2 separate regions of the Homo sapiens genome follow, and region 2 is linked to region 1. The links come from fine-mapping of genetic effects on gene expression. A gene starts in region 1. The other region holds a variant in brackets. All regions are shown on one strand. Distances are between the middles of the regions.

Region 1 (12,858 bases):
ACCTTAACTTAGTTTTAACTAATGTTGATTGCATTACAAAAGGCACCAATTAGCAAAAGATCCAAGGCAGTGGTTCTCAAACTTCAGCATCCATCGGGATCACCTGGAAAGCTTGCTAAAACACCAACAGCTGGGCTCCACCCCTAAAATGTTAATTCAGTTAGGTCCAAGGTAGGGCCCAAGAATTTGCATTTTTAACAAATCCCAAAGAGATACTGATGCTACTGGCCTGGAGACCAAACTTTGAGAACTACTGGTCTACACTAATAGGAAATTATTGATAATAGCATAAAAAGGAAAAATACAGATATATACGGGACCCAGTCTCAGGTTCACTATCAACTTGCATTCTTCAAATATGTGCTTTCTGAAAAGCTACATAATTACTATGTCAGACCAATATTGTTTCTTATCTAAGAGAACTTAGATCTTTGAGGGTTTTTAAGTAATGAAATCCAAATAAGTAATTTTTAGTCTAATATGTTCAATGTTTGATACAAGGTACTACTAATAATGCCAAGGTTGTAGGTTCAATCTGGTAGCTTTACTCTGTTTTACAGCTATAATTTCTACCTCTAATCTTGCCAGCTGTCTCAGCAGACATGCCAAGAGTGACAAAGGGAATGGGTAAAAATGTGTGATTGTACACAAATCCATCACCACTACTAGAAAAACAACATAAAAGCATATTTCCTACCAACATATCACTTTTTTTTCTTGAGACGGGGTCTCACTGTCTTGCCCAGGCCAGAATACAGTGGCACTATCACAACCCACTGCAGCCTCAACGTTCCCAGGCTCAGGTGATCCTCTCACACCAGCCTCCCAAGTATCTGGGACTACAGGCATGCACTACCATGCCCAGCTAACTTTTTATTTTTTGCAGAGACAGTGTTCTGCCATGTGACCCTGGCTGGTCTGGAATTTCTGGACTCAAGCAATCCCAAACTGTTCAGCCTCCTAAACTGCTAGGATTACAGGCGTTAGCTACTGCACCTGGCCTCCAACACGTCACTCTTAAGTGACCTTGAGGCTAAAACTAAAGATGAGACCTTGCAACAAAATGTGTTTTAGAAATCTAGGAAACTCCTCTACTTCTTCAGGCTATAAGTATAATCAAAATCCATGGAAACAGAAATCTAGGAATTCCTGTTTTCAAATGATGATAATTTTAAGGCAGGCATGCAATTTATAAATGCAATTAGTTGAGAACTACTTTGAGTATGTGTACCCCCCCTTTGATTTTTTTAATGGAAGTTAAATGTAAATATAAGATGCTCATCAATGCTAATGAAATTATATACTACAAATTGATAAAACCAAATAATCTGGGATAAACAAGTATGGTACCCAGAATAACTAAAGCCTGAGGTTATATGAAGGATGACAAGAACACACATTAATTAAAACGACTAACAACACAAGTTAGAGCAAAAGGGGCAAAAGTAATCAAGAGTAGCAGATGGATAAATAGGTAGTTGAAGAGGACATAATAACCTCATTGTGTGTAGGACTGGGCACAGAACAGTAAAATCAGCTCAAGATGTCCAGTCTCCCATAAAAATAACTTCAGCTTAGACCTGAAATTGCAAGTGTTCAGGCCAAATTCAACAGAAGGAATCCTTTTTAATCCTTTGAATGGGAACAACAAACAAGACCAGTGGTGAACATTCCGTCAACATTCTTTTATTTAGATGTTCACTCAGCACCTATTCGGCACTAGATATCTTACCATTTGATTATGCACAATACAAACTAATCAAAGAAACCCACTAAAGCAGTGCATTTTATAATAGTGTATAAACTGAAAAATGGAAAACCAGACTAAGATGGCAGATTATTACCAATATAATGTCAAATTCTGCTGTGTAACTCATTACAGTTCTGAGACTCAAGCCTACTCTTATTATCACATCTGACCTACAGTATTATTTTACCTATATCTTATAAAGTCATACTTATATCAAGAATCAGAGCACACCCAACAAAAGTAAAATTACAGAATATAACTAGATTATTAGGATGCTAAAGTGAAGTTTTCCACAACTCCCTCTCTCTTTCTGTGGGGATAGATATACATGAAGAATGGCCAACAGCAAGATATACAAGAGTTGCTGAACAGTTTACTGAAGTATGGCAATATTAAGCAGGACTCACCAAAGACAACTATTGTTTTTTTTGTTTTTGTTTGAGATGGAGTCTCACTCTATTGCCCACTCTGGAGTGCAGTGGTGCGTTCTTGGCTCACTGCAACCTTGGCCTCCCAGGTTCAAGTAATTCTGGTACCTCAGCCTCCCAAGTAGTTAGGGTTACAGGTGCGTGCCACCACGCCCAGCTGACGATTACTTTTTTTTTTTTTTTTTTAAAGATGCAGGATGACATAACTATAGCTGGTTAGGAAACTACTACCTGGATATCATATGAAGAATGAAATTGCCCTTTTGTGGGCAAAAGCATCAGATCTATGATGACCTAGAAGGCATAACTGGAGACAAGAGAACTCTGAAATGACTACAGATACTTAGTAAGACTCATCACATGTTTATTGTGAACTACAGATTGCACAACAGCCTGTAATCCAACTTCAATGGAGTATGTCATTTTCATTTTTTAAAATATTTTTACTTATTTTAAAAAGTCTTTCTTTTTTAGAGATGGGGCCTCACTATGTTGCCCAGGCTGGTCTCAAACCCCTAGGCTCAAGTGATCCTCCCACCTTGGCCTCCCAAGTGCTGAGATTACAGGCATGAGCCATGGCACTCGGCCAAGTATGTCATTTTCAAAAAACAATGGGCAACCACATGGATTAGTGTATCATCCTTCCTACTTCCCAAAAGGGCTTCAGACATCTAATCAATACATTTAAACATAACACATAATATTTAACTTGAGTTCATGTAATAATAAAAGTACTTAAAGAAATTAGAGATGAGTATATTACCACCTTCAGATATAAATTTGACTAAAGTTTTACTAAGCTAAAGAGAAAGACGCAGTTATATAGTTACCACTTACTAACAAACAAGGAGCATACATAATTTTTTCTATAAATAATTTTCTTTGTAGCTAAACTCAGCAGAAATTTATGTTAATGCATGTGTGAAAAACATTCTGTGACACATTTAACAATATTAACTATTATTCTGCCAGAGATATCAAAACAAATTCCAAAGGCAGTTTCCCAATTAGGCCTCTGTATAAAAACAGAAAGCATAAAAATAAACTACAATTTAAGGGAATCATTTCTGCAAAAACTGAGATAATATAGGCCAAACAGCAATAATTTTGCTTTGTCAAAGGCTAATGAAACAAAAGAAATAACTTAAACAATCTAGATAGACACTTAACATAGCTATGAGACCAAAGCAGGCCACACTGGCAATGTATTAGAGTCACCTGCGATGAAGTGTTAGCCTAGATTGTTTAAAATTAAGCTTTCTAACTAGTGTCTATAATGTATCTATTACATACTGTTGATTAAGGAGAGTGCCACAAACAGGTATGATGATTAATGAAATAAAAGATACATAGAATTTAGCAGGGAAACTTCCATACAGTAGACATTAAGTAAATGTTACTTTTCTACCTTCCAGAGGAGAGTAATGAAAGCTGGCATTCTCTTATGGAAAATAGGAATCATACTTATATTTTTGTCCAGAGAGGATTAGGCTAATCTACTATATCACAATTCTCTCGAGGAGTACTTAATTTTCTCAAATTTGTCAGTAACATAATTTTTTATAGAGAAGTTCATATACATATATAATCTTTATACTTGCTGGGCTTTCTGTTTTAGGAAATAAATATGTTCAAGTGGCACCGTTAGGTATATTAGTTTGTAATAATAAAGGACACTTATTTCGTGTAATTGCAAAAATCCAAAACAAAGGTTATTTGCAAAGGAATTATCTTTAAAATTAATATCAATGCATTCATCTTAGTATTGTCATTAAAATTTTAAAAATGACAATGTTAGAGTTCCAAGGGACCTTACAGATTTTCTAGATCAAGCTTCTTATTTTAAAAGATGAGAAAACTGTAGACTAGAAAGTCTAAATGAAAAGACCAAAGAGCTAGCTCAGCCAGAGACTTCAGCATGGGAGCTTCCTAACTTCCAGTACTTCCTTCTTTCTAACATACTGTGCTGCTTCATGTGGTTCTAACTTCTCTGCCTTGGATGAGAGTACTGGTTGCCTCTTATGCTATTCTGAGGCATAGTTGTCATTTGTAACTTTCCCATAAAATTCGAATTTTCCAACCTGTTTTCTGAATGAATTACACAACTGAACATGTTAATCCTCAGCTTTCCAAATTTCAAAGCAATAAATACAGAATTCAAAAAATACTTGATTCAAACGTGCAATATATATAATCAAACTGCAAAGAAAAATCCTCCTTTCCTGGATAATTCAGGCTACAAATTCGAAAAAAAAAAAACCATTTAGTGAGCACCTATCACATGCTGAGACTATGTTAAGTGCTGGAGATATGAAGATGATTAAGATTGCCCTCAAGTATAATAGCTTATAACCTGGTAGAAAAGGCACTTTAAGCCAACAATTATAGTGTGCTTATTAAAGACTCTGAAAAACGACTGTGCAGGGAGCTATGAGTGCATATGGCAATGTAGAATGACGGGATCAGACAGTGGTTCCCCAGTGAGGTGCTGAACATCAACAGGAAAAAAGGCAATAACTACCCATATTTAGCAGAATCCAAAATGAATTATAATAGAGCCACTTCAACTGATTGAAGGAGAAAATGAAAATTGTGTGTTTTCACACAGCAGTTATCGAATCACTCTCTAATAACAATTAGACTATTATTCAGTGGAAAAGAACCAGATTTCATCGTGGCTGCATAAAAAGCAAATACAGGTCTTATATTATTTTTTAAAAAATTTTTAAATCATTATTTTAAAATCAAAGAAAAAGACTGCATCCAAAACGCGTCTAGTTAATATTCATAAAAGCTCTCTGCAAAGCTGCATAAAGTCCTCCTCAAAATTCCAGGATAAAATTCCCATCTGTTACAAGAGAAATGACAACGTGGAGAACCAGTAGCCCAAGAAGGAAGAAAACTACCACTCATTTTGTTTTCTTAAACCTATCACTGGGGATAAAAACCACTCAGATTCCTTGATACTGACTTTCAGCTGGAAGATTTAGAAAAGAGAAGCACAGGAGACATTTTTATTTACATATTTAAGCAAAAAGGGAGGCGAGAAGAAAATCAGAGTGTAGAGAAAAGCATGAAAGAAATTAAGAAGGTGAAGCCATGAAAAGAGAGAAAAGGGCTGGGCAAGAACCCAAAAACCAAAGACATAAGAAGGGGTGGAGGAGGAAAGACTGACTTTAGGATGGTTTTGGAAAAAGTGACAGAGAAAGACAGGAAATGTGGGGAAAAGAATGGGGGCGGGGGGAACTGTCTTAAAAAAGGTTTGAGAGGGAATGAAAGACAGGAGAAAGTAATTAACTGGGACCACCTCCATCGGGGAGAAAACGAGATCGGAATATGAAAGGTAGAGGAATCGATAAAGAAGCAGCGAGTTTTAACCTCCTTTTCCTCAGCCTCCACGCCCCAGGGAGGGAGGCAGAAGTGGTTCCCAAGTCCCGGGGAAGGAATTCCGGCGTAGCCTTCAGAAACCAGAATCCGCGAATTGGGGCAACAATCCAGCAGGTCCCCGGCCCCTCTCCATCCCCTTCGGACGCTGGGCGGGGCCCTGGGCGTCCTGGTTACCTGGACAAGGAGTCCACGCTGGGCGGCCGAGCCGCCGCCGGCTGGGAGCCAAGACTCTCGCAGCTCGAGCTCTTCTCCATCGCGCGGCAGGGGCAGCACAGGGAAAGGCTGAAGCAGTCTTCGCGGCTACAGGGCGGGAGAAGCGGAGGGCGGAGTGCTACGGACCGGGGCCGCAGTCAGGCCAGCGCCGGCCCGGGAGGGAGACCGGAAGCGGCCATGTTCCCCCAGAGTGCACCGCGCCTGTAGGCTGCTGGGCAGCGGGAAGACCCCACTGCGCAGCTCAGACGCCGGCATCGACTCTCCGTGCTGGCTGTGTCCGGCCGCGCGACATCTGGTCTTGGGGAAAGGGAGGTGGCGGCTCCCAGGGTGAGGGGGTCTGGTGAAGCGGGAGGGATGAAGGACCAGACCCTTATGGAAGGAGGAGAAATCCTAGGTGTAAGAGGAATGAGGGAACACTAAACATGAGGGTCTCAGGAAGGCGATAAGGACCTGAGGCCAGGAGGATGATTTAGACAGGAATGTGGGGGTCAAGGAAAACAAGAGGACCGGATAATGAGAGAAAAGTGAGAAAGAGGTATGGGAGAGGGATTGGGGAGGATCTGATATACATGCAAAAAGAATTATATACTACTGGATGCGGTGGTGTTGGATTACCCAAGTAGAAGACAAACTTTCACCGATTTTTCCCTGCCCTTTCAAATTCCCGTGCCTAGCAGGAAGGGAGTGTGGAGGAATAGAACTGTGATAAGAGAACAGGAACTGGGTAAAGGGGAAATGCTTCTGCTAGGATTTTTCTGTTAGGATACAGGAAAGCCATAAGGACACCATAAAGGGATTTTTCTGATTGAGATTGAATCCTAATCATCTCATGTATGGGGTGTAAAATTATGCAAAGATTATTCCTGTAAAAAAAAAATCAGACCATCCTTAAAAAACTTCCTTGCTAGGATAAATTGAATTATATTGATTTAAACTAGATTTAATTTATAATGTACAACTGATGTCTTTTAAAAAACCTTATAGTTGCAGTGCAGTATTAACTTGCAAGTACATTCCCAAGAAGAACAACCTAGCTTAGTTATGTTCAGTGTAAGGTAGAATAGTTACTGATGAGTATGTGTTTAAGCACAAAAGGCTTAGCCTTTTTTGAGTTTGGCGAGGACAGACAGCGACCGATTGTTTTTATTTCCATAATTTTTAAGATACCTTAACTGGACTCTGTAGGCAAAGGGAGTAGGTAGTCAAAAACATTTTTTAACAAGCTTAAATATCTATCATGACTCATAGAAGAATTTCCTTATTTCTTCACCATCTCTACCTGCCTTCCAAAATGCTGACTCACTGTCAGCTACTTTGACTTAAATTTCCTTAGTGAAGGCTGATGAACCCTTGAATGGGAGACCTATGTACTTTCTTCCACCCAGTTCATTCGTAGCACTTTGTTAATAGAACCCTCGAAACCTTCTGCCTGATGTAACAATATGTGTATGGTTCTATCTAGTGATTAATAAAGAACAGTGTAGTAAAAGTGTAGAGACTTTGGAACCAGACAGATCTTCATCGGAATCCCGGTTCTGTCTCTACACTTGCTCTGTGCTGTGGTTAAGTTGTTTCACATCTCTAAAATGGGAATAAAATGGGAATAAAAATATCTACGTAATAGGTTGTTTTTCTCTGTGCAGAGTCGGTTGCACAGTACGGTCTCACTAAGTAGATTTATTATTACTTGTTTTTCCACTGAACTTACTGCTTGACTTCTAACCTGACTGGTAAAATGGTAACTTCTCAGAGTGAAAACACAAGCAAAGAATATCAGCTGGAAATTAATTAGTGAACTCTAATTAATTAATGAACTCTAAGAAAATGAAAAAACATGGTTAACTTGGGACCTCACCAAAAGTTATTAATTTTTCAATTTATAATCTGGGCTGTTTTTTCTCAAACTATCTGCAAGAAGGAACAGTGTTTTGTTTTTAATTTTCAAACCATCACCAACCAAAACTTTTTTAAAATATAAGAAAAATTAATCACAGTTGGTTCCATATCCTCAGATTCAACCAACCACAGATTGAAAAATTTGTAAAAATTGTAAAAAACAAAATAATACAAATAGAAGACAATACAGTATAACAACTATTTACATAACATTTACATTGTATTAGATATTATAAGTAATCTAGAGTTGATTTAAAGTATACAGGAGGGTATGCATAGGTTATATGTAGACACTAATGCCATTTTATTTAAGAGACTTGAGCATCTTTAGCTTTTACTATCCTTGGGGGTCCTGAAACCAATAACCTGCAGATACTAAGGGATAACTGCACTAGGAAAATTAAAGAAAAAGGTTTGCAAAATACAAGGCCAAATTGTTTATTAGATTTAACAGATATTACTCCTTGAAAGTTTCGTGAAAGTTCCTAAACACTTATTCTCAATATTGCGTTGATCTCATCATAGACTGACAACAGTTCATGTATGGGTACTACACCAAAAAACCATTGAGATCTCATAAATTAATAAAGTTGCAGAATACAAAATCCACATCCAAAATTAGTTTGCATTTCTATGCATCTATAATGGCCAAAAAAGAAATCAAGAAGGCAATCCCATTTACAAAAACTGCAAAACAAAAACAAACAAACAAAAACCAGGAATAAGTTTAACCAAGGAAATGAAAGACCTCTACAAGAAAAACTATAAAACTCTGATAAAGGAAATTGAAGAAGATGCAAATAAATGGAAAGACATTTCATGCTCATGGAACAGAACAATTAACATTGTTAAAATAACCATACTACCCAAAGCAATCTACAAATTCAATGTCTATCAAAATATCAGTGTCATTTTTCACAAAAAAAGAAGAAAAATTCTAAAATTCACATGAAACTAAAAAAGAGCCTGAATAGCCAAAGCAATCCTGAGCAAAAAGAACAAAGCTGGAGGCATCAGACTATCTGACTTCAAAATATAAATAAACATAAGGCTATACCAACAGCAGCGTATGGTATAAAAACAAACACACATACCAAAGGAACATAAGAGAGAATCCAGAAATAAACACATGCATTTACAGCCAACTGATTTTGGACAGACATCAAGAAAACACACTGGGGAAAGGACAATCTCTTCAATAAATGGTGCTAGAAATATTGGATATCCATATTCAGAAGAATAAAACTGGACCCCTGTATCTTACCACATACACAAATCAACTTAAGATGGATTAAAGACTAAAATGTAACACCCAAAGCTGTAAAATAACTACAATAAAATACAAGGGAACTACTTCAGGACTTTAGGCAATGATTTTACAGCTAAAACCTCAAAAGCACAAGTAACAAAAACACAAATAGACAAATGGGACTATATTAAAGTAAAAAGCTTCTGCACAGTAAAGGAAACAATCTACAAGGTGAAGAGACAACTTGTTGAATGGCAGAGAATATTTGCAAACTATTTATCTGACAAGGGAGTAATATTTAGAATATATAATGAACTAAAATATCTGAACAGTAAAAAAAAAAAAAAAGAAAAAAATCCCATTAAAAAATAGGCAGGCTAAGCGTGTGGCTCATGCCTGTAATCCCAGCACTTTGGGAGGCTGAGGTGGGCAGATCACTTGAGGTCAGGAGTTCGAGACCAGCCTGGCCAAAATGATGAAACCCCATCTCTACTAAAAAATATAAAAATTAGGTGGGCATGGTGGCATGTGCCTGTAATCCCAGCTACTCAGGAGGCTGAGGCAGGAGAATTGCTTGCACCCAGGAGGCAGAGGTTGCAGTGAGCCAAGATCATACCACTGCACTCCAGCCTGGATGACAGAGTGAGACTCCATCTCAAATAAAAAGGCAAAGGGCCAGGTGAGGTGGCTCACACCTGTAATCCCAGCACTTTGGGAGGCTGTGGTGGGTGGATCGCCTAAGGTCAGGGGTTCGAGACCAGACTGGCCAACATGGCAAAAACCCATCTCTACCAAAAATAAAAATAAAAATAAAATAGCTGGGTGTGGTTATGGGTGCCTGTAATCCCAGCTTCTGGAGACTGAGGCAGGAGAATCGCTTGAACCCAGGAGGCCAAGGTTGCAGTGAGCCTAGATCACGCCACTGCACTTCAGCCTGGGAGACAGAGTGAGACTTCGTCTCAAAGAAACAAAGGGCAAAGGACATAAACAGATGTTTCTCAAAGGAAGACACAAGAATAGCCAAAAGGTATATGAAAAAATGCTCAACATCACTAATTATCAGGACAATGTAAGTCAAAACCACAGTGAGATATCACCTTATCCCAGTCAGAATGACTGTTATCAAAGAGACAAAAAATAACAGATGCTGGTGAGGATGTGGAGAAAAGGGAACTATTATACTCTGTTGGTGGGAATGTAAATTAGTACGGCCAGTATGGAAAATAGTCTGGAGATTTCTGAAAAAAACTAAAAATAGAACTACCGTATGATCCAGCATACCCATTACTGGGTATTTATTCAAAGGAAAAGAAATTAGTTATCAAAAAGATACCTGCACCCCATGTTTATTTTGCAGCACTATTCACAGTAACGAAGATATGGAACCAACCTACATGCCCATCAATGGTCGAATGAATAAAGAAAATATATATACGCAATGAAATATAAAAAAAGAATGAAATCATGTCATTAGCAGCAACATAAATAGAATTACAGGTCATTATGTAAAGTGAAATAAGCTAGGCACAGAAAGACAAAAGTCATGTGTTATCTCTCATACATGGGAGCTCAAAAAGTCAATCTCATGGAAGTAGAGAGTAGAATGAAGGACACCAGAGGCTAGGAAGGGTGTGTAGAGGAAGGATGAGGAGAGGTTGGTTATTGAGTACAAAGATACAGTTAGATAGAAGAAATAAGTTATAGACTGGGCGCAGTGGGTCATGTAATTTTATCGCTTTGGGAGGACAAGGCGGGTGGATCACTTGAGGTCAGGAGTTCAAGACCAGCCTGGCGAAAATGGTGAAATCCCATCTCCACTAAAAATACGAAGATTAGTCAGATGTGGTGGCAGGCACCTGTAATCCCAGCTACTCAGGAGGCAGAGGCAGGAGAATTGCTTGAACCCGGGAGGCAGTTGCGTAAGCCAAGATTGCACCACTGCACTCCAGCCTGGATGATAGAATGAGACTTCATCTCAAAAAAAAAAAAAGTTCTAACATTCAATAACAGAATATGATGTCTATAGTTAACAAGAATGTACAGTATATTTCAAAATAGCTAAAGCAGAGGACTTGAAATGTTCTCAACACATAGAAATAATAAATACTCAAGGTGATGGATTCCCTAAATACTCTGACTTGGTCATTACATATTCTGTGCATGCAACAAAATATCACATGTGCCCCATAGATATGTACAAATATTATATATCAAAATGAAAAGAAGAGAGAAAATGAAAATAATAAACATTGAATGACCAAGAAGATATAATTAAAATAGATTGAACATCATAGAATAATTTTATGGACATCTTTACACCAAACGCTTATAATCTTAAATAAATAAATATTTTGAAACAGAGACATGCCAAAATTTGCTAAATAAGAAACAGAAAAAAATAGAAGTTAAAAAAAATCAAAAACCTCTCCCTCAAATATTTTTATGGATAAAGTCTAACAGATTTTGAAGAAATTAAGGAACAGAAAAATAAAGCTGCTGAATCAATTTTATGAGGTCTGTTTCCCATAGGCCTTTCCTTTGTGAACATTTATAAACACAAGTGAAATCCTAAATGAAATATTACTTAAAATAGGGTGATGTCAACAAGACGCCAGACTAGGAAGATGCAGGCTCTTCTGGCCACACAGATGATGACTTTAAAACAATGTACAAGCTGGGCACAATGACTCACCCCTGTAACCCCAGAATTTGGGGGCCTAAAATGGGCGGATCGCTTAAGCCCAAGAGTTTGAGTCCAGCCTGGGCAACATGGTGAAACCCCATCTCTTCAAAATATACAAAAGCTAGGTGGGTGTGGTGGCATGTGCCTGTAGTCCCAGCTACTTGGGAGGCTGTGATGGCAGGATCCCTTGAGCCCAGGAGGTCAATGCTGCAATGAGCCGTGATTAAGCCACTGCACTCCATCCTGGGTGACAGAATGAGACCCTGTCTAAGAAAGAAAGAAAAAAAAAAAGTACAGGACAATCTGTGTGAGAAGTTAAAGCATGTTAAACCAAGAAAGTATTCTAGAGAAAGAGGTAGAAAAACTTATGGCATTTGGCATACCTGTTTATCGTCCTTTCCCTAGATGGCATATCATGAAGGAATGGGTGGGGGGAACACTCCACACTTCTTATCAGGGCTTTTTCCTGTGGATGAAAGCAGAAAAGGGGACTTTAAATAAAATGTTTTGGCTTTTCTGGGGCTGCCCAAGGGACTGGTTTTGGTCTTGCCAGACTCTGAGCACTGATGGTATTGATACCAGAGCTTGGAGCCTATAATAAAGGAGAGCAGCTTATTATAGCCCCATTTCTACAGGCAGACACCAAAAGAAGCAGGAGATCAGAAAATATCTTGGAGGTCATAGAACTTCCAGCCCAGGTGATTAGTAAAAGTCCTCTCTTGCACAAAACTAGTACACAAAGACTGGGAGAGGTGTTTTTTTTTTTTTTTTTTTCAAATCCTGTCAAAAAAGTTACATGTCATACAAAGAAAGGGTAAAACATGGCCCAACCAAAGAAATAAATACAATTCCAGAAACAAGCCCTAAAGAAATTCAGATTTATGAACTGCCCGAAAAAGAATTTAAAATAACTGTTATAAAGATGCTCAATGAGGCCAGGCACATTGGCTCATGCCAGTAATCTAAGCACTCTGGGAGGCCGAGATGGGCAGATCACCTGAGGTCAGGAGTTCAAGACCAGCCTGACCAACATGGTAAAACTCTGTCTCTACTAAATACAACAAATTAGCCAGGTGTAGTGGCACATGCCTGTAATCCCAGCTACTTGGGAGGCTGAGGCAGGAGAACGGCTTGAACCTGGGAGGCAGAGGTTGCAGTGAGCCAAGATTGCACCATTGCACTTCAGCCTGGGCAACAAGAATGAAACTCCATCTCAAAAAAATAAATAACATGTTAAAAAATAAAGATGTTC
Region 2 (12,858 bases), 150 kb before region 1:
TTTTAGTAGGTGTCTCTAGGACTCTAAAAAGATAGCTGCAACACCATCATCACATCTGAAAAGTTAACAGTACTTAATTCCTTAAAATCATTACATAACCAGTGTTCAAATTTTCAGTTCTCATACATGTTAAAAATTTTTAATTTCTTGATTCCAGATCCATATCAGGGTCACATATTGTGACTGGTTTATATTAAGTACCTTTTATACTATAGGTTCTCCCTCCACTGATTCCCTCTGCTTGCAACTTATTGAACAACTGTGCCAACTGTATCCTTTTGGTGTCACTCAACATGATCTTCCATCCTTTCTATTTTTGGTTAATTGGTAGATGCTTCGTCAGATTTAGGTTTGATTCTTTTTGGCAAAACTTTATAGGTAGCAGTGTATTCCTCCATCAGAAAGCACTTAAGAATGTGTTTGTGTATTGTCAGTAGCTGCTGATGACCAATCCTTAACTCCATGAGAGGTTGCAAAATAGTGATGTTGCAATTCCATCCTTCCTTTTTCATTAGAATGTTTTAAAGAGAAACTACCCCCCATCTACTACTTACCTACCCAATGGTATAGTTTGTATGGGAAATGCAGGGAATATTAAAATGATAGTTCTCAAAATGTGAGCTCTGGGCCAGAAGCAGCATTACCTGAGAACTGAGAACTGAAAATTCTTAGGCTCCATCCCAGACCCACTGAATCAGAAAACTGGGGATAAGGTCCAGCAACATGTGTTTATCATGCCCTCCAGGTAACTCTGATGTATACTAACGTTTGAGAAACAAGGGACTACACCTGAAGTCTTGAAATGCCCTTGCTAAAAGCTGTTAGCTTTTACTACACTTTATAATACCAAAGTTAGGTTCCAGATTTTTTCCCAAGCACAGTATCTGCCCACCTAGTCTACAAATGAAAGAATCACACCTTCAACTTTTAACTTATCAAACAATCTAGCATGGTACTAGTCATGTTCCAAAGCTTTCAAAAACTTAACTATAGCTTGAAATACTTGCTCAATTAGATGCAAATTTATTTCTTCCAGGAAAAATAACTATTGCACTAAAGTGGTCTGAATGGACAGACAGGAAAATAGTTTCTAATGTTTGGCCTAAACTTCTCTCATGTATCTGTTGTTTCAGGGTTTCATACTGGAAAAAGGGGGTAAAATGTAGATGAAGCTATGTAGGCTCAATAATGGTCCCCCAATATGTCCATGCCCGAACCCTTGGAACCAGTGAATACATTACCTTATATGACAATAGGGACTTTGCAGATGTGACTAGGTTAAGAACTCGAGATGGAAAAACTACGTTGTTTGTGCAGGTGGAGCCAATAATGTTCTCATAAGGTCCTTATGAGAGGGAACAGAGGGAGACACTCTGAGAAGGTATGATGACAGCAGCAGAGAGAGATTTGAGATGCTACAATTTGGGCTTTGAAGATAAAGGTCAATGAGCTCATAGCATGCAAGGAATGCAGCTCTAGAAGCTGGAAAAGGCAAGAAAACAGATTTTCCCCTACAGCCTCCAGAAAGAAGCAATCCTGCCAATACCTTGACTTTAGACCAGTAAACCTGATTTTGGACTTCTGGCCTCCAGAACCATAAAAGAATTAATTTTTGTTGTATTAAGACACTAAGTGTGTGGGAGTTTGTTACAGCAGCCATTGAAAACTAATACAAAGCCTTTGACAAGTTTTTTATTGTGAAATATTGGATCTAGAAAAAAGTACAAAATGTCAACAGTCAGATGTGTACAAGTACAGTATTTCAATAGTCTATACATGTGAACAGCTTAACAGGTTCACTGCAGAATGCATATTTAGACCAATATAATCTAAAAAGGACTGCAATATTCACAGGCTATTAATACATAAATAACTTGAGTCAAAATGACCCTTACTGGTAAATGCTAATTAATAGTGGAAAACAGGCTAAAAGCACAATACACCACACCATAGTATCTCCTTACAGGTCCACATTTAAAGAATATCAGTTTATTATGTCAAAACACTACAGAGATCCAGGACTGGGACTGAATTACTAATTTATACAATTGCAAAAAAATTTAAGTTATAAAATAAGGTCATGGAATAAAGAAGGGTATTTAATTAGGACTAAATACTGTGAAGCCCATGAAAGGGTTTTAGCCTTGGAATTTACAAAGCTAAATTATTAGACTGTTAATGTTAGCTAACACTAAAACTGAATTACCTTCCATTTTAATGTTAGCTAATATTAATATTCAACTTTTTAATTTTGATGTTAGCTAAGGGGAAGGACGAGGACAACTTTCTTTTGTAGTTTCTCCAACAAGGTGTAAGAACTATCAAAAAGTAAAACCATAATGACCACTGTGGACTGACAAATGGCTATGAAACAAGAATATAAAACATTACAAATTTCAAAGAAAGGTAATAACTATCTTATGAATTTAGCAAATCCTGCAAACGTTAAAATCCATGTTAAGGCATTATCTATCATGGTTGAGAGTACTAAATTTAAGAAAATTATTACATGAAGATCCCATAAAAATAAACTGGTTTAGTTTACAAGATTCTAACTGAATCTTTTTGTATCACTTGAAAATTACCCTATATTATGCTTTCAAAATGGACAAAGAATTATTTGGTATTCACTTTATAATGAACTATGAGAACAGTCTATTGAAACACGTCATGTTAAAAAAAAATTGTTTCAATCATGTGTTCTTAAGAAAGCCAATCTTTGATATGACATTCACAATCAATGCTTGTATAAAACAAAACCTTTAAAACTTATAAATTTAGTAACAGTTTTACATGAAGCAAATTTATCTTTGCCCATAAATTATTAAGAGAAGCAACTCACTCTATACAGTGTATCTAGCAATACTTTAAAATCAAACTAAAACTCTGAACTGATAATAACTAGGAGATAAATTCTATTTCAGGCTGAAAACCGCTGGATCAGAATATAGTCAATAACTTCATATAACCTATCCCACCCTACCTTAACCTTTTATAGACAATTTTAAAGACTTTAGGACAATTTACTTATAATGCCTGAATCTTATAGTAGATTCCAATTTATTCAAAGATTATCACAGATTGGATTAAAAAGATCATTTAATTTTTTTCAGATTTGCTTTAAATTTACAAATTACATTGTACATAAATATTAACTTAGATAACCACACATAGGGAAAGCAGATACATGGATCATTGCAGAAACATTAAAATTTTTAAAAAATTTTATAAAATATAAAGCAAAACATGTAACTCACACAATACTAATATGAAGCCACATGACATAAAAAATAAAATTACTCTTTAAGAAGCAACTTAAAATTAAATCTTTGGGGAACTATTTTGACATAATTAAATGAATTCAAAGACCAACAGCTTCCCTTATCACACAGAAACAAATCACAAAATTTTCTACAATCTATATGCATTATCAGTTAGTTCTAAATGTAATCTCAAACATTTTACTAGCAACTTTGATTTCCTTTTGAAATAGGCTTCTGTACATATGCATTTATATACAAACATTTATTAAACATGATTTTAAAACAAAATGTATGTACAAAAGATCAGCATTCCTATAAATAAAAACATTAGGTGGCAAAAAGGCACTTGTAAGTAAAAATCTACAGTAGTTTTTACAAAACAGAAACACATTTTACCTTAGATACTGTACAATAAACATTAATTCCTATACCAATAATGAAAATGCTAGGTTACTAATGTTAATGATGTAACTTTAAAAAACAAATTTACATATATCTGAAGTTCATTTAATAAAAGCACCGTGATTTTCTCCTAAATTCATCTTGATGCAAAGTAAAAACACAATTCCCAAAAAACCAGTGTTCGCCATTTTTCGAGTTTAAAAGTTTTTGTATTTCTAAATTGAAAACTGTTTGTCTGAAATTAGCATAGTGTAAAACAAAAACAAAACAAAAAAACCCTGCTGCTCTGACTTCTGAAACCATACCTACTCTATTATTGCATGTTGCGTTTCATAAAGAGCACTACTCATGCACTCCTTTACAACTGTTTAATACTATTGCTGGCAAAAAAGTTCCTGGATATCAAATAATTAAAAAGTTACTTCAAACCAGTTGAAGTTTTATTTGAATGTTTTACAACTTAAAAAATGCTGTATATCAATTACAAAAGTGAACAGGAAACACACCAATTCATTTGGTGTGCAAAAATATTTTTCTACTACACAGAATTTAAGGGCTTCACAGAATTTTTTTTCCCCAAATTTACATTGTAAGAAGAAATGCTAAACAAATGACTTTCTCAAGGAGATGTTAGTATGCTTCCACTTTTGTCAAATTTTTTACCCTTTGATAATGCTGCGACCTGTTTGAGTAGTTCTCTGTTTTTGGCCTGTGGGAGACAAAAACATTCAAGATTAAAAATGTTTGAAATATTATTAAGTCATGCTGAAGAATACTACTTATTTAATACTGTTTTCATTTATATAAATGTTTCACTAAAGCACTAACATTAAATGAAAGAGTTGATACCTTTACATTCATCTCTTTAAGGATGAACATGCAGAAGGAAAATTCTAGATTGGCTCATCAGCCCCCTTTGTATATGTCATTATTAATATAATTGTGTCCAAAGATGCACAATTGGTTACAAAAAAGGAAACAAAGTGAATCCACTTAAAAGAAGGTCCAAATTTTAATAGGGAAAAGGTGTTTGGCCCTTCATCTTAAAAACATGAAAACTATGAAAATAAGTTGTAATTTACAATTAATAAAATCAAAGAATGAATCAAGATTTGGGAGGAGTATTTCCTGGCAAGCTGTATAAGGTCTTTTTTCTATGTTTACTCTCTTGTAGAACAAGCATAAGAGGTCATTTTTGCAAAAACAACTCAGAATTTGTTACTTTGCCAAATGCACCCAATGATATTCAATTTTTTTTAAAGCACCCATCAGAACCACTCATTATCTTGTTGTTCCTTTAGTTACCAGTCATCTGACACTGATTTTAGTGTGGTTTGAGCAGTTCCACATCATCATTTCCTATCTCATGAAAGCTTGAATTTTTACAAAGATTCAAAATTTCATTTCATCATCTGACTTGAATTTCATTATTAAATGTCCATCCATCACTAGTTTAGTGAAGAGGAATGTGTAAGTACAGTGAATATTTTCACATTTTGACTGCCTTTGTCACCTTATTCAGTCTCTTAAATATGAAAACTTAGATAGTAAGGATCCCTATATATACAAATACATTAATGATCAAGCATTTTTGTAGTTTGAGCCAAAATGGGGAAAGTGATGAAAATAGAGCACTGCCCTAAAATTAACACATTTTAAAAAGATATCCTCTGACTTATGTTTCAACACCATTTTCCTTCACAGGTTCCAGGAATTTTTATTATATAGACAGACTTTTTTAATCTCAGTACTTCATATTTTATTCTAATTTTAGCTTTTTACGGGCAGATAACACTCTGCCTTCTCTGTATGCCATCTTAAAGTGGTTTCATGAAATAACCTTTTTCAAACTTTATTCTTCCATTCCCCCACCCTTCTTCTCCAATCACTCTTGCTAATTAACACCCATGACCTCTAAAATGCAAATATTCTCAGTACTATCTTATATGTGCAAATCAAATAATTTTTTATGTTCAGATGCATGATCAATAGAACTTTCCTATTCAGTGGTTATTAATAACTAAGGTGGTAACGAAAAACTTCAATTTCAAATTCAGTATCAATTTCAAATTTTGAGTCTGCAAATTTGACTCAAAAAGATCTCCACTAGATCTGTTAAGTTATATTTATCTAAAAATGTTTATACTGATACAAAATAGTTAAAATGTGAATCTCCAAGTTCTTATCTCAATTATCAAGAAATAAAGTGTTTATAATTTTCATATTTTAAGTACAAAATACAATAATTTGAACATTAGGTCTTCAAAGCAATTTTTCCATTTAATGCTTTGGTAGCTAATTTCCAATTTGCTTTTAATATATTTATATCACTAATAAAGATATTTCTTAATAAATTACATAAGACAAAAGTCTTTATGGTAAATAAATAACACAATTGTTAAGTACAAGTCCAAATTATTCTAATTTGAATACTTTAAAAATGAATTTTATGCCATATTTCAATATATGTACATTTAAATTGTTTTATCCTAAAATTACTTCATTTTGCAGCCAGCCAAAAAAAAAAAAAAAAATCAATGAAATTCTTTACAGACTCTTAAGAAAGCTAAGTTTTAAAGTTTAGACATGTTGGTGCAAAGGAAAGAATATCAGGATTAAGAATTACATAGATCCTGCTTTAAATCCTGGCTTACTTACCAGCTACATAACCTGGAGCATATTTTCTCATTTGTAACACAAACTCCACCATCCGAACTCAAAATGAGTTGAAGGAACTTATCAAATATATAAAACACTTAGCCTAACACAGTTCCTGGTACACAGAAGGCACTCAAATGTTAGGTCCCTTTTCCTTTTAACCACTTACCTAATTAAGTGAATAAGAGTTTTAACTTGATATTCTTAGTATTTTCAATATTTGGGGTATTTTGGGGTGACATTTTGAACAATTTTTTCAT[G/A]TGATGTTCAGTGTTTTGTCGTAGGTTTGGCAGTTAAAAATATTTTACTAGCTATTAGAGCAAGATCCATCTTGTGTCACAGGATTCAATTCCTTATTACATAAAGATAAAAAAAAAATTACCGGTTTCCTCACCTCAGTAAAGAATCCTACTAGTATCACTTGGTTGCTAAAGGAAGTGAGGTAAAAAGATGGCACTCAGCTATGACAGATTGTCTCTAGCCATAACACAAAAAAATCAGGGAAGTGGCCTGATAGGAAGGATGAAATAGAAAACCTGAGGAACCTGAAGTGGTGGGAACTAGTGTAGGACAGGGAAAAGTATAGATAAACTGGAGTGAGAAGACAGAGATTTCTACGTCACCGCTTACTGTGTGATCACAGTTTCCTCTGTAAAATGGGCATATCACATAACCCAGTTTTTGCAACAAGTAAGACAGCATATGTAAAATCATGTCAAAATGTCCTATTTAAATATTGGTTACTTTTATACTACATGAAACTTCAATTACCAAGAGGAGGTAGGCCTAAGATATCTATCAGGCTAAGTCAAAGATGACCCCATGTATTTGCAACTATGATTTTAAAAAAGAAAAACCAACACACAAACTGCTCTTTTGAACAGTGGGGAGCACTAAGTTAAAACATATCTGAGCACCTATTGCAGTTATTCTGTTATCTCATTCTGGATTTACTTCAGAGCTTTGGTTACATTACATTAAATCAAAGATCACCAGGTGGAAGATTTTGTTCCAGGTAATCATTCAGCATTAATAACTGAGTAAGAAAAACAGGAATAACATAAAATTAAAAATAATACTTGCTGGTGGATAAAAACATTGACTAATATATAAGAATCTGATATATGATACGGGCAATCTCTCAGAACAGAGGGCTGATGGGCATTTCCATAAATCACCACCTAGTCAACAAATTATTTGAATGCCTACTATGTCTCAGGTTCTACATGAGGTTCCTTTTTCAACAGTCTTTGTAATAGTATGATAGGGATTAAGACCAGATAATCTGTACCTCGAATTTGAGCAAGTTCCTAAATCCTACTAATTTAAGCTACTTGCAAAGAAGTATGAATAATACAAAACCAAAAGAAAGAAATAGCAAATATCCTTTGGTGTTACAATGTGAAAAAAAAAAAACAAAATGAAACAGGACAGTATTAACTCCTTCCTTCTGAAGCTGTACTCTCCCAAGTCTGACGTCTGTGTGCTGCCATCTTCCATTAACATTTAAAACTTCTTTCACCTTAAAAATTTTGTTACTAAAGACTAATTTTACAAATGTGAGACTGTATAAATCAAAGAGAACATGTAATTAATTTAGTGTGGTCTGATTTCTAAATGTATGAAACCTAGAAGAGAAGCAGCTTAATATGGTAGCATTCTGTATCCATGTTGGATGTTCACCATCTCTGCATGCCAGACATCAGATTATTACTGTGGTGACTCTTGACTTTACCATTCAGTTGTTCTGTATACTTAAACTGCTACTTTGCAGTACTCTGAGGTTCAGGTGGATCACTACCTGTTAGCATTTAGCAGAACCCTATTTGGCACTTTGCGAACCACTGTACACAGGTTAAGTAAACTCTCTTGCTTTGCACACATTTTTGCCACTCCAGGTCCTTAAGAATTGGTTTTATACACCCATCTCCTTTCCCATTATCTGGAAGGAAATATTAATGTGAGGAATGATTGCTACTGAAGACCTGCTTTTCACCTTAGTTTCATTAATCTGATTTTTAATTTTTTGCTATAAGCCCAATAATTAATTGAACACACTCCAATGATACCCTCCTCCAAAAACTCCATTTGAAGTTTAGGCAAAAGTTTTCAAGATTAAAGTACTGAATCCCCCTTTCAAGTAATTTCAAACAATAACTTCTAATGAGATCAAGATTAAAAATGATTATAAAGTCAAAATCAAAACTGAAATGCACCAACTATGCACAAAATAGGGCTACCAATAACAATCTAAGTCAATGAATGCTATTACTCAAGTTTAGCCCTTCTTGCCTATCATTTTACGTAAATGATGGTAGTTACCTGAAGTTGTTCCACAGTTTCTTTGTGGGCTTTTTCCATACTGTTCATTTTTGTTCTCAAATTTGACTCTTGGTACTGAAAGTCTGCCTTTAGTTCAGTTAACTGAGAGATTAAAGAAAAAATATATGTATATATTTGCACACATACACACACACACCATTTTAAATAACTTTCACAATAAACTCACATTTCATTACAAAAGTAGAAGATGTTAACTGCAGTTTCCTGAATTGTACAAGCTATCTAAAGTTTGTTTGGTGAAATGATGAAGTCTATCTGCTTCACAATAGTATAATTTTAATGTTAATACCTGACCATCAGTAAAACTTCTCAGTTTTCTTTTTTTCCTAAACATGGCTCGACTGGAAATAGAGTTTGGCAACTGGTATGCCAACGAAAAAAGCTTAACGGCTAATAACTGGGAAAATGCCTCATTTAAAAATGTACTTCAATAATAGTAAAAACAATATAAACATTTAAACTAGCTTATGCGTAAAATAATCTTTCAATGCTTAAAGAAAGAAATTTCACACTGGGTAATATAAAAAGGAATGGTCTTTTCAGCCAAAAGCTACACTGTTTTCATTTTTTAATTTATGTCCAGGATTATGTACACAATACCACCTAACACTTGAGGTAAAAATAGAGAACAAAGCACAGAAATACAACTAACACAGAATGAGAAAGGAAAGAAGGTTACTATAAAATTTGGGCTAAATTAGACAAATACAAGAAAAAAATCAGTGCTTTGAGGAAGAAGGCTACATGATAATTTTTCATAAATGACATACCTAACAGTATAATATCTCATGACTTCAAACTAAATAAGTTATTATGTAATTTCACTATTAGAACCATGCAGAGGGAACTCCAGGTTATTTTTTAATGTTTTTCATTATGCCAGCTTTAAAGGTTTACACATTCTCCTTTGTAATTACCCAGTATCTAATAAACTGAAAGACATACAACAGCAAAAATAGAGAAAATCATGGAGTCTTATAGTCTTATTAAAAAAAAAAACCCTTGCTTTTGTCAAATTCAAAGTATAACTAAGTTCTCTCTCTCTAACTTTCTCTAATCACAAAAGATTTTCTGTTCTGAAATGCCAACATACACCAGATCAGCTAAGACAATTACTCTATTCACTACACTGTGAGTTGCCTCCTCACTATGAACTTCTGGAAAATAAGAATTATGTCTTATTTATTCATCTTTGTATCCTCATGATCTAGTTCAGTGTCTGGCTCTAGAAATCATTAAATAACTTTGTGAAATCAATTCAGTAAAATAACTTCATCATCTTAGATTTATAAGAAAAAGTTGCAAATGTATAGTTATTTTAGGTTTACCATTAGGATTTTCCTTACAACAATGCTAATTTCAATCCCCATTAGTGTTGTGATTTTTTTAAAGAGGAACACTAACAAAAGCAGAAAACTTCAATTAACTGCACAATACAAAGATAGTACCTCTTATGCTAGAGAGGAAAGAAAAATCTAGCAGTCAATATTCTATAACTGATTACTACTTGGTTTTGAAATCATTGCTATTTTGCAGTAAAGTTGGCATTTTATTCAACTTTTCTCAAGGCTAATGCAGATATATCTGGCCTGTCTCTAAAACTTTGTACACAGGACAAATTTCCATAAAGGCTCATTAATTTAAAAAATGCTGTCAATCAAAAAGAACCATAAGACAAAGACACCCGTAACTATCCTATTTTATATGTCACTCCTAATTTTCATATACTAAATTTGCTTAAAGTAAGCTACAAATGTATTAAAATAAATTAAGCCCACTAACCATCAAGGTGTGGCAAAATGTATCAAAAATTACTGAATGCCAGAAGTAAAAGCCAACTCAGCACAGACTTAGAGATGGATATAAGTCATATATGTATTCATATTAAGGCCTTATTCTTTTAAAAGAAATGATTTTAGTGTTCTCCTACTGCATAATACATTTGATACAGGTCAAACTACATTGTCTGGGACCATAAAACAAGTACAAAAGATGATCAAACAGTAATAGCCCCTATGGGCACTTATACATACCAGGAGCTATAATAAATACTTTGCATTTTCATTAATCATCAAAACCATCACTTCAGATAATATTAATGCTCTCATTTAAATGAGAAAACTGAGGTCCAAAGAAGCACACATTCTGCTTTAGGTCACACAGAAAATGTTAGAACTAGGATTTGAATCTAAGTATGGCTAAATTACTTCAAAACTGTTTCCTGTTCCATGCCTGTCCACTATTGTGCCATCCTGATTTCATAGCACAAGACCTTAAATCCTTCTGTAATTCTGTTAATATTCCTCTTTTCACTAAATGAACAACACATTTTAATATTCCTCTTCATTTAACTGATGAAGTCCCAATAAGTACACTTACTTCCTACACAATGAGCTTTTAGACATCTATTGCTAATTACTATTACTGACTACTACAGGAAATTCCCATACCATTACTTTTCAGCAGTATTTTGATCTGGATTGATACAAATATATGACTGGATTGATACAAATATATGAATGTTATATCAAAGACTGTTCAAACTACATTCTTAAATCAAAAAAGTTTATGAAATATTCCATTTACATCTCATTTTTAATTAGGTATTAGATCTATTTTTAAATTACATGCTTACTGAAAATTAAAGTTTGGAAATTACTATCCTAATTAAGCCTCAGTTAATTCTTAGAACTAAAAATCTGAAAGACCATTTTTACCCATCTTCATTAGATGGCTTCAGGGGCTTTTGTAATTTGTCTTATAAAAATCACGCACAACAAACATTACCAAATTATTAAAGGAAGTCTAATAAAATTTGCGATTATCAAGCAACAGTCAACACATAACTCTTACCAGGCTTCAATGAACCATGTTCTTACCTTTTTATCTTTTTCTAAAATGGTCTGGTCTCTCTGCTGTAAGAGACGCTTAAGTGACATCACTTCTTCTTTCAATTGACTTATAAGGACAAAATTGTCTGTTCCCCCACTATCTGCTGACTGATTTATAGAGCTACTAAAAAGAAAAAAGTAAAACACAGTTAAATGAAGTAGAAGGAAAATTAGCAGGTGTTCAAATTGCATAAATTAGACAATTCCACAAACATCCTTAAGGCTAATGCAAAAAAATATGTACCTGACAGAAATGGATGCAACTGGCAAATTACCTTACTAATGGCACACATTACATACACCTGCAGAAATATAATTCAGTATTAGCTTTAAGGGGGTCAATACTTCTAGTGTAAAGCAATAGGCAGCCAATTTGTACAGTAACATCAGCAAACTTTTGGCTAATGAACTAAAACAAAGTAACGCTCATAATATTTTTAATCTAAAAACATTTTCTAAGCAGGTCAATTTAAAATATCACAATTAGATTTGTGTTTCACTGAAGAATAAAGATAAAAATAATGTTCTCCATTCAAATTTGTTTCTTCAAAACCCAAATTTATTTCCCAAATAGAACAACATAGTTCAGTGCCACTTTCTTATTGCCAAAATTAAGCTAAAAATTTTAAACTAATTTATGTTTATTCTTCTAGGTGACTCAAGTCAATGTAGAAAATACATGTTTCTATTTTTTTATCTAGTAATAACTGGCATTCAACCATAACTATTCAACTAAGTTGAATTTTCATAACACTAAAAGAATTCATTTTTACCTATCTCCATTAGATGGCTTAGATTCCAATTTGGGCTTTTTCTTTGGAGTTTCATTCTGAATTGTTGCAGAGGATTTATGGCTGAAACCAAACATTAATAAGAATAGTTAGAGTAAAAAGGACAGAGAAACCAAATGATAAGTTATTCATCTTCCCCTAAAATATTACTGAAAATACTGATTTTGGTAAGACTTAAGTAACAAAGTTGAAGGGATATCACATTTATAAATATACATTTCAAAATACTTCAGAAAATACAGCAATGTATTTACCTCTGTTTCCACAGTCCCTGCTCTTCTTCTGGACTTAGATTGCTGATTCTGAAAAATACACAAATGACATCTAATAATGACATTTATTTATTTAATACATCTAAATTTAACATTCTTTCTCAATGGATACAAATTTTATGTTTATAATATTTTCTTCAGAGAAAGGTATATTTAAGTTTTCAGACTAAGCTAATACATATTGAATAAATCACATTCTGATGAAATAAATTTTAATAAAATGACTGCTAACCATCTC

What was found.
Region 2: its variant is fine-mapped to the expression of MTMR2 in lung (TOPMed, PIP 0.98).

What each region holds. Positions count from the first base shown.
Region 1 is chr11:95,918,136-95,930,993 of GRCh38, forward strand. MTMR2 (myotubularin related protein 2) reads right to left here and starts at 5,972. Exons shown (of 15, transcript NM_016156.6): 1 at 5,740-5,972. The coding sequence starts at 5,819. RefSeq lists enhancers at 5,950-5,999, 6,060-6,189.
Region 2 is chr11:95,767,277-95,780,134 of GRCh38, forward strand. FAM76B (family with sequence similarity 76 member B) reads right to left here. Exons shown (of 10, transcript NM_144664.5): 6 at 12,603-12,650; 7 at 12,331-12,411; 8 at 11,546-11,681; 9 at 8,646-8,747; 10 at 1,677-4,374. The coding sequence ends at 4,285. Among named protein-coding and RNA genes, the nearest start is that of FAM76B, 16 kb to the right of the region's middle. The variant G/A (reference allele first, on the strand shown) is at 6,584.